Homo sapiens: one gene and its partners. The protein of the gene in region 3 interacts with the protein of the main gene of each other region in a biochemical or structural test. Each region holds a gene or a part of one and is shown on either strand. Other genes may lie near its edges.

The links.
Region 1: the proteins of ITGB1 (region 3) and TSPAN7 form a complex in vitro, tested with the Homo sapiens proteins (one study listed by BioGRID).
Region 2: the proteins of ITGB1 (region 3) and RABGAP1 form a complex in vitro, tested with the Homo sapiens proteins (one study listed by IntAct).
Region 4: the proteins of ITGB1 (region 3) and TIMP2 form a complex in vitro, tested with the Homo sapiens proteins (one study listed by BioGRID).

The regions. Positions count from the first base shown.
Region 1 is NC_000023.11:38,686,480-38,689,418, forward strand, and holds the end of TSPAN7 (tetraspanin-7), read left to right. Parts: intron 1-1,119; coding exon 1,120-1,188; 3' UTR 1,189-1,195; intron 1,196-1,459; 3' UTR 1,460-2,439; downstream 2,440-2,939. UniProt on the Homo sapiens protein: May be involved in cell proliferation and cell motility.
Region 2 is NC_000009.12:123,073,520-123,077,019, forward strand, and holds part of RABGAP1 (rab GTPase-activating protein 1), read left to right. Parts: intron 1-32; coding exon 33-158; intron 159-765; coding exon 766-909; intron 910-2,725; coding exon 2,726-2,767; intron 2,768-3,114; coding exon 3,115-3,243; coding exon of another isoform or gene 3,244-3,252; intron 3,253-3,500. UniProt on the Homo sapiens protein: May act as a GTPase-activating protein of RAB6A. May play a role in microtubule nucleation by centrosome. May participate in a RAB6A-mediated pathway involved in the metaphase-anaphase transition.
Region 3 is NC_000010.11:32,906,231-32,909,730, reverse strand, and holds part of ITGB1 (integrin beta-1 isoform 1A precursor), read left to right. Parts: intron 1-1,196; coding exon 1,197-1,363; intron 1,364-2,587; coding exon of another isoform or gene 2,588-2,662; exon of another isoform or gene 2,663-2,668; intron 2,669-3,500.
Region 4 is NC_000017.11:78,855,933-78,859,387, reverse strand, and holds part of TIMP2 (metalloproteinase inhibitor 2 precursor), read left to right. Parts: intron 1-1,741; coding exon 1,742-1,866; intron 1,867-3,455. UniProt on the Homo sapiens protein: Complexes with metalloproteinases (such as collagenases) and irreversibly inactivates them by binding to their catalytic zinc cofactor. Known to act on MMP-1, MMP-2, MMP-3, MMP-7, MMP-8, MMP-9, MMP-10, MMP-13, MMP-14, MMP-15, MMP-16 and MMP-19.

The DNA of each region.
Region 1 (2,939 bases), on a different chromosome or scaffold from region 3:
CATATCTGATTCAGCAGGTCTGGGGCGAGATCTGAGAATGTGCATTTCTAAAAAGATCCCAGGCGATCGTGATGCTCTTGGTCCTGGGGTCACACTTCTAGTGAAACAGTTTATTCCCACCTCTGATCCAGTAAAACATGCCCAGTTATCTAAGGAGGAGGGACTACATTGGCCAAGAGAAAGCAGCCTGTAGACTCAAGTGCACAATTGGGCTCCTCTCTAAAGAATGCTGATCCTCCAGATTCATGAATGGAAATTTTCTTTTCTAATGAACAGAACAAGATGTGCTTAAGGGTGTCTTGAGAGTATCACAGTCATCTTTATTAGATTCACTTGTGCCACAGTTTAGATCAAGGCACAAAGACAAGTGGAGGACTAGAATCTTCTGAGGAGGTGGAGGTACTACATCACTGGTGGTCCTGAGGCCCCTAAAAAAACTGGGAGGTGGGCCCTGGGTGTAGATGAGCCCACTTAGGCCTAAGATATCTACATGGCCGAGAGACAGAATATAAAGCCCCACTTTCCCCTAGCCCCTCCTACCTTTTCATAAGCCTTGGCTTTCTTACCTCACTGGTGAATGTGCCTGATCAAGAATAGTGTCTCTATTCTTGCCTCAAGGAAAGAACTATTATTTTGTCAGCTGGGTATGGCTGAGACATCATAGTATGCTGAGAAATCTTCCAAATGCATGTGCTATAGATGTGAATTAAATTTTAGCCTTCTAGTTAATATATCACTAAATTCTGTGTTCCTTAATTTTTTTATTACTCTCATAACATGAACAAATTTTAATACTCCTTAAGTGTCAAAAGTTGTTCTTAAATGGCCAGAGTGAGCTACAGCTGCAACATGATGGCCAGTTTGAGAACTTCCAGTTGGCTCTGCAGTTAGACTCCCAACAGCTGAGATCCCATGGTTGAAATCTGGTTTTATCTTTTGCTCTAGTGCCCTTTCCCCATTTACATACAGAAACACTTGGTTGTTAAAAAATTATGTCTAGTGATACGCATATGTCAAAAATCACATACCCCATAAATATATAAAATTATTAATTAAATATTAAAAGGGTGTGGTTCGGTGACTTGAGATTCTCATTTTCGTTTTTCTCCCTGGCAACAGTTAATTGGCATGCTGCTGGCCTGCTGTCTGTCCCGGTTCATCACGGCCAATCAGTATGAGATGGTGTAAGGAGAAGGTAGGTGACAGTGGGGAGTGTTTAATTTTGAGGGGTCCCCTTTGGGACACTTACTACCCTTCAAATGTGCAGGAGTACTCCCTGGCCATTGAGCTACCTGATCTTGGTGGCACTTGTCCATGTTCAGAAATCTCATTTCTGTGGTTCTGGGAAGGAAGTATAATTGGTTCTTTTGTGGAAAATGTGGAAATGCTTTTTTCAGCTTGTTATCTTTCAAGTCCTTATTACTGGTGAATCACTCACATGTTCTCATTTCTCTCTTAGTCTTTCAAGAATGACGGAATAAGAGACCTGTTTTAAAAAGGAACTGCAGCAATCTTTGAAAGACTTCCAAAGAATGTTAGAGCACAGTACATAATACACTTGCCCTGCTCCCTCTCCCCCTTACCCCACAACGTGCAACTGACACTCCCACCCAGTCTCTGCTCCACCTTTCAGCCCACGTCACGTGTAGTGTCCATTTTGTGAAGCCCTGTTGTGCCACAGAGTGTAGCCAGGTCCCCCTGCAGCTAGTCCTAGTGAACCTCACCCCGAGGCCCTGCATGGGCCAGCCCCTCCATCTGTACTTGGTCCAACTGCAACTCATCATCGGTGACTGGTTATCACACCATCGCTGGCCCCTTTGGGCCCTGCATGTAGTGTGGGAGGCTCCTGTTAGCTCCTCACTGTGGTAAATGCCACACACCTTTAAGTAGATAAGCAGACGATAGTTATCTGTTCTTTTGACTTAATCTCATTTGGTTTGATTTTCCCTCTACTAAGGCTTTCCTACCTTCTTCAGGCTGCCTAAGACATGTAACGAAACACTTCAATAATTGTCCATGAGGAGAAAAAAAGCATGTGTCATGCATGAAGGAAACTGAACTTGAGGTGGCCTCCTTGCTTGTTACATACCTGGGTATGTGTAGGCAGTTTAGTGCATCTTTGCCTCTCGGTTGAAACCTGTATAACCCTGTTACAAAGCTGTGTTGTTGCTTCTTGTGAAGGCCATGATATTTTGTTTTTCCCCAATTAATTGCTATTGTGTTATTTTACTACTTCTCTCTGTATTTTTTCTTGCATTGACATTATAGACATTGAGGACCTCATCCAAACAATTTAAAAATGAGTGTGAAGGGGGAACAAGTCAAAATATTTTTAAAAGATCTTCAAAAGTAATGCCTCTGTCTAGCATGCCAACAAGAATGCATTGATATTGTGAACATTTGTGATATATGTATTAATAAATAGAGCAATTACAAGCAGCTGTGTTCTGGTTCTGTTCTTTGGTTCTTATGAAAGTTTTAAAACACATTTCTTTTCCATCTTGCTCTTCAGGACATCGCAGGCAGGTGGACCATCTCACACACTGACACACCTCTCCATGTGTGCTCCCACCCCACTAAAATAGCATCAGCAGCAGAGAAGCTAAAGGGTTAGGTTTTTTTAATTATTGTTATGGACACTTCAGAAACTTTAACCATTTATCATGAACAGAATACATTGTTGTCTGTGGAAATAGAGCCTTCATATCATTTCAGGCCTCTGAAATCCTTGGGCCTGAAATCCGTGAAATAAATACAAAGATTTCAGCTGAGTTTTTAAAGTCTGGATTTCATTTTGTTAAAAAGGAAATGAGCCTCTATTCTTTCCTTCATCGCTTCTAATGAGCATGAATTCTCCTCTTTCCTCTTTCTTTTCTGTGTTGGATTGAAAAAACACGATCTAGAGAAGAGATTACATCCTACGATTCAGCCATCCCAAT
Region 2 (3,500 bases), on a different chromosome or scaffold from region 3:
TCCCTACCCAACAACTTGCCTATCTGTTACAGATGCCTGAAGAACAGGCATTCAGTGTTCTGGTCAAGATCATGTTTGACTATGGGCTCAGGGAACTTTTCAAGCAAAACTTCGAAGATTTGCATTGCAAATTTTACCAGTTGGAGCGCCTCATGCAGGTAAAAAGAGAAACCAGCTTGTGTTTGACAAAAAGAGTACAGGACTAAGGAGCACCAAATTGAGGAAATGGTGCCAGGGAGCATTGGTAATTGCCTTAGCGATCCGTGGCTAAGGATGGGTTTCATTTTTATCCTTTATCACTATGTGATTATGATGCAAAGATTAACAAAGTGTTAAACTTTCACACCTCATGGATGTGAGCTGATAAACTCCCAAAAGATCAGATGACTTTGTTAGGGGTCTTTTCCACAGCTAACTCAGTCAAGAAGTACTCCCCAAGGCTCTGAAGCTGACTGGTTAGGAATCTCATAACAAAAGTGAAACAAACTTTCCCAAATGTTTTTTACTTTGGAGAGAAAAACAGGCTTTCCAAATACTTGTCACCATTTTGGGGATTCCTCTTTCTTTAGAACAAGTTTGTGGTCTGGAAAAAAGAGTTGAGTGCCAGCTTAATACCAGATGATAAGTGTTCTAAGCACTTTGGAGATTTTTAGAAAAACACAAGTATTTTACTTTTTTGGCCTATTCCTGGTAGATTTATGAGCCTCCTTAGTGGGAATTGGACAGATGCATATGTGCCCAGAACTAATTGGTTTGCTATTTCAGGAATACATTCCTGACCTGTACAACCACTTCCTGGATATAAGCCTTGAAGCACACATGTATGCCTCCCAGTGGTTTCTTACTCTTTTCACTGCAAAATTCCCTCTCTACATGGTCTTCCATATCATCGACCTGCTTTTATGTGAGGTATGTATCAGAGGCCACAGCACTTTGGCTTTTGTTTGCAGTGTACTTGAGGAGAACAGATTCTGTTTTGAGTGTCAGCTCTGTCAAAACAGAATTGGTCTCTTTAATTATTTTATTTTATTGCTAGGAAATCTAGGTTTAAGTGACTTCCTTGGACTAAAGCTAATGATCGTATTTGTTAAAGGTGTACTCTGAAAAGACGTACTGAATTAGACATTTGTATTAGTTCATATTAGTTTTGGCTGTATTGAATGAAGAAACCCAAAGTAACAGTGATTTTAAAAAATAGCTTTTTGCTCTCTTGTGAAAAAAAGTCAATGTTGGCAGTAGCGTGCCTTCCCCTCACTCTGGCTGTTAGCCGTATGGAGGAGTAGCACACCAGCCATTATATCATATTCAAGCCAGGAGGATTAGAGGATGGGAGAGGGTGCCTCCTCTGTTTTCAAAAGAGACTTCCTGGAAGTTCCATCCAGTATTTCCACTTTATGGTCAGAACTTAGTTACATGACCACACCTAGCTGCAAGGGAGACTTTTTAAAAAATAAGCTGAGCAGGAATTTGCTAAAAATTAGAGATTTATTACTAAAGAGAAAATAAGATATTAGAGTAAATAACAGTCTTTGCCATGACGTAATTTTGGATTTTGTGTGGTGTGTTTAAGAAAAACATAATTATAAAAATAATATATGTTTATAGAAAATATAAGTAAAAATAATTTAAAATACTACAAATCCCACTGTCTATAGGTTACCTCCTTTAACAGTTTGGTTAAAAGCAGTATCCTTTCAGCCTTTTTTATGTGTTCATATATGTGTATGTATAATTACTATACAGAATAGTATGGTTTCCATATGGATGGAACACTATATATATTATGGTTCTCCTATGTGTATATTTAAAAATATGATTGTTATTTATACTCTTTGGTATCCTCTTTTTAAATTTCATATACTTGAACATACACATCTGTACTATCCTTTTTAATTATGCTATATTCAAAACATACAAAAATTCATAAAGAATTTGTATCTACCACTCAGCTTGAAATATTCTAAGAAACAGAAGAAATAAATATTACCAAATATGCCGTTTTTCTTAGTTGCTGCCAAGTATCCCATTATTTGGATGTGCTATACTTTATGTAACCAATTTCTAATCACAAACCTTTAAATTGTTTCTAGCTTTTTAGTAGTATAAACAACCATCTGTTAAGTAGCTACTAAAGGCCAGGTGGCATGCTAAGTAATTTACATAAACTTTTCAGCTAATTATCTCAGAAAACCCATAGGAGAGTATTAGTTATGGAAACTGAGGCCCAGCAGCTTAAGCAGTTTAACTTGATCAACAGATGTTAGTGCTTCCTCTCCTTTGTTCTTAGCCCCAGGATTTGCAGAATGGAGGGAGCCTTGAGCAGATTCAGTTCTGGAATATAGGGCTTATCGACAGAGTGGTTGCTGTGCATGGATTGGGACAGCACAAGATAAAGGAAAAGTTCCCCAGGAGTTATTTCCTGAGAGATCACAACTTTATGACTGATCTTTTGGTTTGGAAGCATGGAATGCTTTGGAAAAGCATTTCTTATTATTGAATATGAGAACAGGGCAAGAAAAGCTCTTCTCTCAGAAAAAGGGGAAGCTAGGTCTTTAAGCAGCTTTTCAATGGCCCTTTAGTTTTTATTTTTCAAGGTAGTTCTGAGATAATGCATTTCCTTCCTTAAGTTTTCACAATTTCTTTAAAAATGTGGGGTATAAGGACAAATAGCATAATAGTCGAGATATAAAAACTGACAGTGTTCTTTTTGTCTGTTCTCTTTCAGGGAATAAGTGTTATTTTTAATGTCGCCCTTGGATTATTAAAGGTACTCATTTATTTATTAGCTGAGTTATCTGTCATTCCCTGCTCTGCACTTGCAATACATTGGTTGTAGTCTCATTCTGAGCAGTCACTGTGCACTAGCATTACCCATGACAGTGGATGTATGCAGGTGGCTCTGACAAAAGCGAAGAAATATCTTCTGGGGATTATAAAAGTGCTGGAAATCTAGCATTACCCCTAACAGTGGATGTATGCAGGTGGCTCTGACAAAAGCTAAGAAGTATCTTCTGGGGATTGTAAAAGTGCTGAAAAGTGCTGAGAATATAAAAAACTTCTTGTGCATCCTTATAGCAACACATTTTTTCTATATGTGTTTGTATTTTCTTCAAGACTTCGAAAGATGACCTGCTGTTGACAGACTTTGAAGGTGCCTTGAAGTTCTTTAGGGTTCAGCTTCCTAAGAGATACCGCTCAGAAGAAAATGCAAAAAAACTAATGGAATTAGCCTGCAACATGAAGGTAAAATAATTTTGCATTAGTTAAGATTCTGTTTTTCACTTAGTGTCTCACTATTCCTGATCATTTATAATACATAATTATTTATGTATTATATTTATAACATTTATAATACATATTAGTGTTAACATTTATAATATATAAATAATATTAATGATGTTTTCTTCTGTATTATATAACTCTTAACCTTTTTTTCCCCAAAATACTTTCCTATATATTATAATCCTACGAATGAAATCTCGTTGTCCCCCCAACCGCCA
Region 3 (3,500 bases):
TGTACATGTTTTTGTGTGAACATAAGCTTTCATTTCTCTTGGGTAAATACTAAAAATGGCATTTTGGAGCATATGGTAAGCATATGTTTAACTTTGTTAAGAAGCTGCCAGACTCTTAGACTCCCATACTGTTTTGAATTATCAGCTAGGTGTTTTGCAAATATTGTCTCCCAGCCTGTGTCTCCTTATCATTTCATTTTTTTAAGTGTCTTCTGAACACCACAGGTTTTAATTTTGATTAAGTACAGTTTACCAAGTTTTTCTTCTGTGGCTCTTGCTTTTACATTGTCTTTAAGAACTCTGCCTAACCCAAGATTATAAGGATTTTTCTCCTCTGTTTTTTGGTAGAAGTTTTATAGTTTCTGGGGTTTCACATTTAGATCTGTAACTCATTTTGAGTTAGTGTGTGACAAAAGGCTCAGTTTTTTTCATGTCAGTGTCCACTTGTTCTAGGGGCATTTGTTGAAAAAAGACTGTCTTTTCTCCACCTTTGTTGAACATCAGGTGACCTTACATGTGTAGGCCTGTTTCTGACTCTGTATTCTGTTCCATGTATCTGAGTGTTAGCTATACCACATGGTCTTGTAGCTTTCTTTATAGCTAGGCCTGAAAGCAGGGTCTTCCAACTTTATTCTTTTACAAAAGTGTTTTTGAGACACTTCCTTAGTTCCCTGCCTTCCATGTAAATTTTAGAAGTGGCTTACTGATTGCTACAGAAGTTCTGCCAGGAGTTTGAGTGGGATACCATTGAGTTTATAGATCAAATTGGGAAGAATTGACGTCTTAACGGTATTAGGTTTTGTAACTCCTGCACATGGAATATCTCTCCATTTATTCAGTCTGAAAGATTTCTTTTTATCAGTATTTAGTAATTCTTAACATGCAAATCTTGCATATATTTTGTTAGACTTATATGTAAGTTTTTCATGCTTTTTCATTCTGTAGTAAATATTACTGTTTAAAAACTTATATTTTCAATATGTAGAAATAAATTATATATATAGAAAAATACATGATTTTTGTTCATTGATCATGTATCCTGCAACCTTGTAAACTCACTTGTTAGTTCTAAGAGCTATTTTATAGATTCTTTGGGATAGTGTGCGTTCACTCTCTTGGGTGTTTATTCCTGTATGTTTTTTATAAGACACTGCACAGCTCTTTGTGGTGCTCATTATTACCTTCTTATTTTCCAGAGTGTCCCACTGGTCCAGACATCATTCCAATTGTAGCTGGTGTGGTTGCTGGAATTGTTCTTATTGGCCTTGCATTACTGCTGATATGGAAGCTTTTAATGATAATTCATGACAGAAGGGAGTTTGCTAAATTTGAAAAGGAGAAAATGAATGCCAAATGGGACACGGTAAGTTACAAAACATCCAAAAAGCAAAGTGGCTTATAAAGTAAATGTAATACTCCTAAGACTTATGTATTAGCTGTCAGGCTGATTATTAAAGTCCTTTCTAAGTATTTTATTCCCCCAAAAGTTTCTTACTCAAGGAATTTGCATTTAGTGAAAAACAGAAAGCATCCTAAATATATCCCATTGAAACAAAACATTGATTATAAGCATGTATATTCTGGTTACTGTGGCCAGTATTTTTATTTCTTTAATAGTTTTGATCCTAAATCTGCCTTTTCATCTAATGTGAAGTAGAATCCTAAATAATGTTATCTGTGTAGCAAGCTATTCAATGGAAAGCTGCTTCTTTCTTTAAAACAAACAAACAAAAAAAACCTTCAGTGAAAGCCAGATTCAAAAGGTTATATACCAAGCTTGTCCAACTCGCAGCTCGTCGGCCAGGACATGCAGCCCAGAATAGCTTTGAATGTGGCCCCAACACAAATTTGTAAACTTTCTTAGAAATTGTAATTATTATTATTATTTTTTTTTGGTAACTTTTTTTTAAAGCTCATCAGCTATCGTTAGTGTATTTTATGTGTGGCCCAAGACAATTCTTCTTCTTCCAGTGTGGCCCAGGGAAGCCAAAAGATTGGACACCCCTGCTATATACTATATGATTCCATTTAGAGGACATTCTGGAAAAGCAAAACTGTAGGGGCAAAAATCAGTGGTTGCTAGGGGCTGGAATGGGGGAAAGTGTTGACCACAGAGGGGCGTAAGGGATCTTCCTTGGGATGATCTTGATTGTGGGTGGATTTATGTATTTGAAAACTCACAGAACTATGTACTTTAAAAAGATGTATGTTCCTCTATGAAAATTATATCTCAGTAAACTTTGGCTTATAAAAATCTTAAAAGCCCTAAGTGACCGAAAGGTTATGTTAGCATTGAGTGCTTTGAAATATGGAGTCAGAGGGTGGGGTAACCAAATGTTGGCCTTTGTGTATTCATCTTTTGATACAAGAAAGCAATGCCAATCTTCAGTATTTTTAAATTGTAAATGAATTTTGTAGTTAGTTGCACTTTACTACAATTTGCTTGGGTTTTTAAAAATTATCAATTTTTTAAATTACAAATTTCAGAAGGGTAGAAATAAAAAAAAAGACATTTATAGTGTTCAAACACTATAAAGGGATTTTTTTTTTCTGATGAAATCATTAGAAACTATTTCTTTTACTTTAGCAAGAAAATCCGATTTACAAGAGTCCTATTAATAATTTCAAGAATCCAAACTACGGACGTAAAGCTGGTCTCTAAATTGCCGTTCGTATTTTGTTTCACTTTCTGCCTTTGCATGTGAACTTCTATCTTTTTTACTGCACTGTGTGTCCTTTATCACTATTGCTGTTCTTTTTTTAAGTCTGGCTTTAAATATCGCTATTGTGGCTTTTCTTTTTGTATGTTAACTTCGCGTTTAGAAAGACCGTAAAATAAGTAATGTGATATAGAAACAGCAGCCATGTTGTAGTGAAAAGAGAATGTGCTTTGCAATCAGTTAGACCTCAGGTCAAATCCCACCTCTTCCACTTAGTAAGTAGAACAGCATTGAGTCACTTCACTTCTCTCAACTGTCACAGGGAGTCAGTACTCTGTTTTGTATGGGGTGGTTGTATTTGGCAAATGCACTCCAGTATATGAAATCAGCCTGTCAGCTCTAATCCTCATAACAGTCCTGTGCCTAGAATGATATTATCCTATTATCTTTTGTTCTTTTTCTGTTTATTTATTTATTTATTTTGAGACAGTCTCTCTCTGTCGCCCAGCCTGGAGTGCAGTGGTGTGATATCAGCTCACTGCAACCTCTGACTTCCAGATTCCAGCAATTCTCCTGCCTCAGCCTCCCGAGTACCTGGGATTACAGGTGCCTGCCACCATGCTAGGCTAATTTTTTTGTTTTTAGTAGAGATGGGGTTTCACCACATTGGCTGGGCTGGCCTTGAACTCCTGACCTCCAGTGCTCTGCCCACCTCGGTCTCCCAAAGTGCTGGGATTACAGGCGTGAGCCACTGTGCCCCACCAGTATTATCCTTAAATAACAAATTTGTTATGAGTAAATTTTAGGGTTGGATAGTGAAAATTGATCACGAAATCCAAA
Region 4 (3,455 bases), on a different chromosome or scaffold from region 3:
GCACCTGGCCTGAGGGATGAGTTTTTAAATGACTTCCATAGCTGTCATTAGGTTCTGTCAGCCACTGGAACACACTGCTTTGTTCTTTTCCTCCTGCTTGTAAAACGCCAAGGCTATTGCCAATGTAGTATCTTCAGCAAAGGAAGGAGGCAGCTGAGTCAGGAGCCGGAAGTACAGAAAGAAGCCACAGCTCATCATGCCTGATGAAGGGAATTCAGAGCAGATTCCTAATTTTCAAAAATTCCATGCTTTGGCTCTTCATAATGGAAAAATGCAGAATTATAAGTTTAAACTCAAATGGGAGAAGCACCTGTGAATTAATATTTTGTGAAAAACAAAACAGGAAACAATATAATCTACATACTGCATGACGTTTTATGTGTGAAGATGCACATAGAAGAGAATATTGGCCGGGCGCAGTGGCTCACACCTGTAATCCCAGCACTTTGGGAAGTCAAGGTGGGAGGATCACTTAAGCTCAGTTCAAGACCAGCCTGGGCAACATGGTGAAACATCGTCTCTATCCTTTTTTTAGAATAAAATTTAATTTAAAAGAATATTGGGGCCAGGCGTGGTGGCTCATGCCTATAATCCTAACACTTTGGGAGGCCAAAGTGGGGGTATTGCTTGAGCGCAGAAGTTTAAGACCAGCCTGAGTAACATAGCAAGACCCTGTTTCTACAAAAAAAAATATAAAAAATTAGCAGGGTGTAGTGGTTCACACCTATAGTCCCAGCTATTCAGGAGACTGAGACGGGAGGATCGCTTGAGCTTGGGAGGTCAAGGCTGCAGTGAGCTATGATCATACCATTGCACTCTGGCCTGAGCGACAGAGCAAGACTGTCTCAAAATCAATAGTGGAATATTGGAAGGAAATACATCAAAATATTAGCTGTGGGTAATGAAAGTAGGGAATTTTTTTCTTTTCTTTTTTTTTTTTAGACTGAGTCTCGCTCTGTCGCCCAGGCCCAGGCTGGAGTGCAGTGGCACCAACTCGGCTCACTGCAACCTCCGCCTCCCGGGTTCACGCCATTCTCCTACCTCAGCCTCCTGAGTAGCTGGGACTACAGGTGCCCGCCAGCACGCCTGGCTAATTTTTTGTATTTTTAGTAGAGACGGGGGTTTCACCGTGTTAGCCAGGATGGTCTCGATCTCCTGACCTTGTGATCCACCTGCCGCGGCCTCCCAAAGTGCTGGGATTACAGGCATGAGCCACCGCCCCTGGCCAGGAAGTTTTTTCTTTGTTTCCAATGTTTAAGTTTCTGTCAGTGAACATGCATTATGGCTTTCTTTTTTTTTCCACTTTTTATTTTTTTGAGACGGAGTCTTGCTGTGTCACCCAGGCTGGAGTTCAGTGGCGCGATCTCGGCTCACTGCAACTTCCGCCTCTGGGGTGCAAGAGCGATTCTCCTGCCTCAGCCTCCCAAGTAGCTGGGATTACAGGCGTGTGACACCACACCCGGCTAATTTTTTGTATTTTAGTAGAGAGGGGGTTTCATCACGTTGGCCAGGCTGGTCTTGAACTCCTGGCCTCAAGAGATCCACCCGCCTCAGCCTCCCAAAGTGCTGGGATTACAGGAGTGAGCCACCGTGCCTGGCCACCCACTGTGTTTTAACTCAGAATAGACAGTGCACAGGATTGTTGCAACGAAATCCCAGCGCCCCTGCGCCGGGTGGAGGAGCTGGGCAGGAGGAGGACTTTTCCCTCTCCCTGAGCTCGGTGATCCCCGTCTCTCCGCAGGAAAGGCCGAGGGGGACGGCAAGATGCACATCACCCTCTGTGACTTCATCGTGCCCTGGGACACCCTGAGCACCACCCAGAAGAAGAGCCTGAACCACAGGTACCAGATGGGCTGCGAGTGCAAGGTAAGCAGGTCCTGCCTCTGCTGGAGCATCGCCTCCTCCCAGTGTCTCCAGATGGACGGCAGGGATTTTGATCCCTGGCTTTCCAGGACCCGTTAATCCCCGGCTCCTGATCTAAGACCAGGCTCTGGGAAGGTAGAGTCATCCCAAGAGTAAGGCTGTCTGGCTGGGGACAGAGCCTTTGACCCCTGGTCCCTGGAGAGCCCTGAGGCACATCTCTGACAGGGGATGTCTGGAGGCCGGGCGCTGCGGCTCACGCCTGTAATCCCGGCACTTTGGGAGGCCGAGATAGGTGGGTCACTTGAGGTCGGGAGTTGGAAATCAGCCTCACCAACATGGCGAAACCCTGTCTCTACAAAAATACAAAAATTAGCCAGGTGAGGTGGTGCACGCCTGTGATCCCAGCAACTTGGGAGGATGAGGCTTAAGAATTGCTTGAATGTGGGAGGTGGAGGTTGCAGTGAGTTGAGATCACACCACTGCACCCCAGCCTGGGTTGACAGAGTGAGACTCTGTCCCAAAAAAAAAAGAGGGAGATGTCTGGAAGGCTAGGAGATTTGAGAGTAAGAGCATGAATTCAGCTCTGTTACCTGTAGCTTCCAGAAAAAGGAGCTGTATGGGGAGAGAGAATATGGTCCCATGGAGAATTTTCTACAAATGTGCAAGTGCAAACGCCTGTGTGGCTTATGAGAAGGCACTGCAGGCCTTACGCTGTTTCCAACATTCCCGACATTTTCACACCTGGGTTGGTGTCTATGTGGGGTCTGTGTGTTGAGAATACCTGAACACCTGCTCCTCTTAAAATGAGCCCGGAGGTTGTGCCAGGCACAGCTGGAGCAGTGCAGCGCCTAGATGTGGCTGTGGAAGGTGAGATTACCGCCTCCAGGGCTCCCAGGCTGGCTCCTACCCTGTGGGCTCCTAGCACCCTATCCCCACCCTCCCTGCAGGAAGCATGGCTGAGTGCTGGGCACCTCCCACCCTGGGTCACTCCCAGTGAGTCTGGGACCAGGAGACTCTGGTGAGGCTGTGGGGATTGGCCTTCCCTGGGGAGCTGCCTGGGGCTGCCCTCCCTCCTGACGGCCCCCAGCCCCTTCTCCGCATGTTCAAAACAGGAATTCTGAACTCATAGTCTCCAGCCACACGTATGTTAAGCGAAACTCCTCTGTGCCCAGCATGAAATCAAAAGCAAGTTTTTCCTTTTTCTTTCCACGGTGGTGAAGGCGGTCATCCTCTTGTAGCCTAGGGTTCCTTGGCCAAATTGCTAGTTGCCGATGACCTCGGGGCTCGGCTTGCGAGCAACACTGGGCTGGAATCTGTCTCCAGGAAACCCAGGCCCTTTTATTGTTGCTGTGTCCCCCAGAGGGCAGGGCCAAGCTGAGGCCATTCTGTCATGCTCAGGAAGGTAGAAGATGGCCCAAAGGGAAGCACACCTGCAGTAGGAGGGGGGGCAGCGGTGGGCAGGGCACAGCTTCCCTGCAGGTTAGACCCCCTCGCAGGCCAGCTGCCTGCCCCTGCAGGAACCGTGGGTCTCGGGAGAGGCTGCCATCCCTGCACATGACAGGTAGGCACATTGCCGGGTTCTGGACATGCCC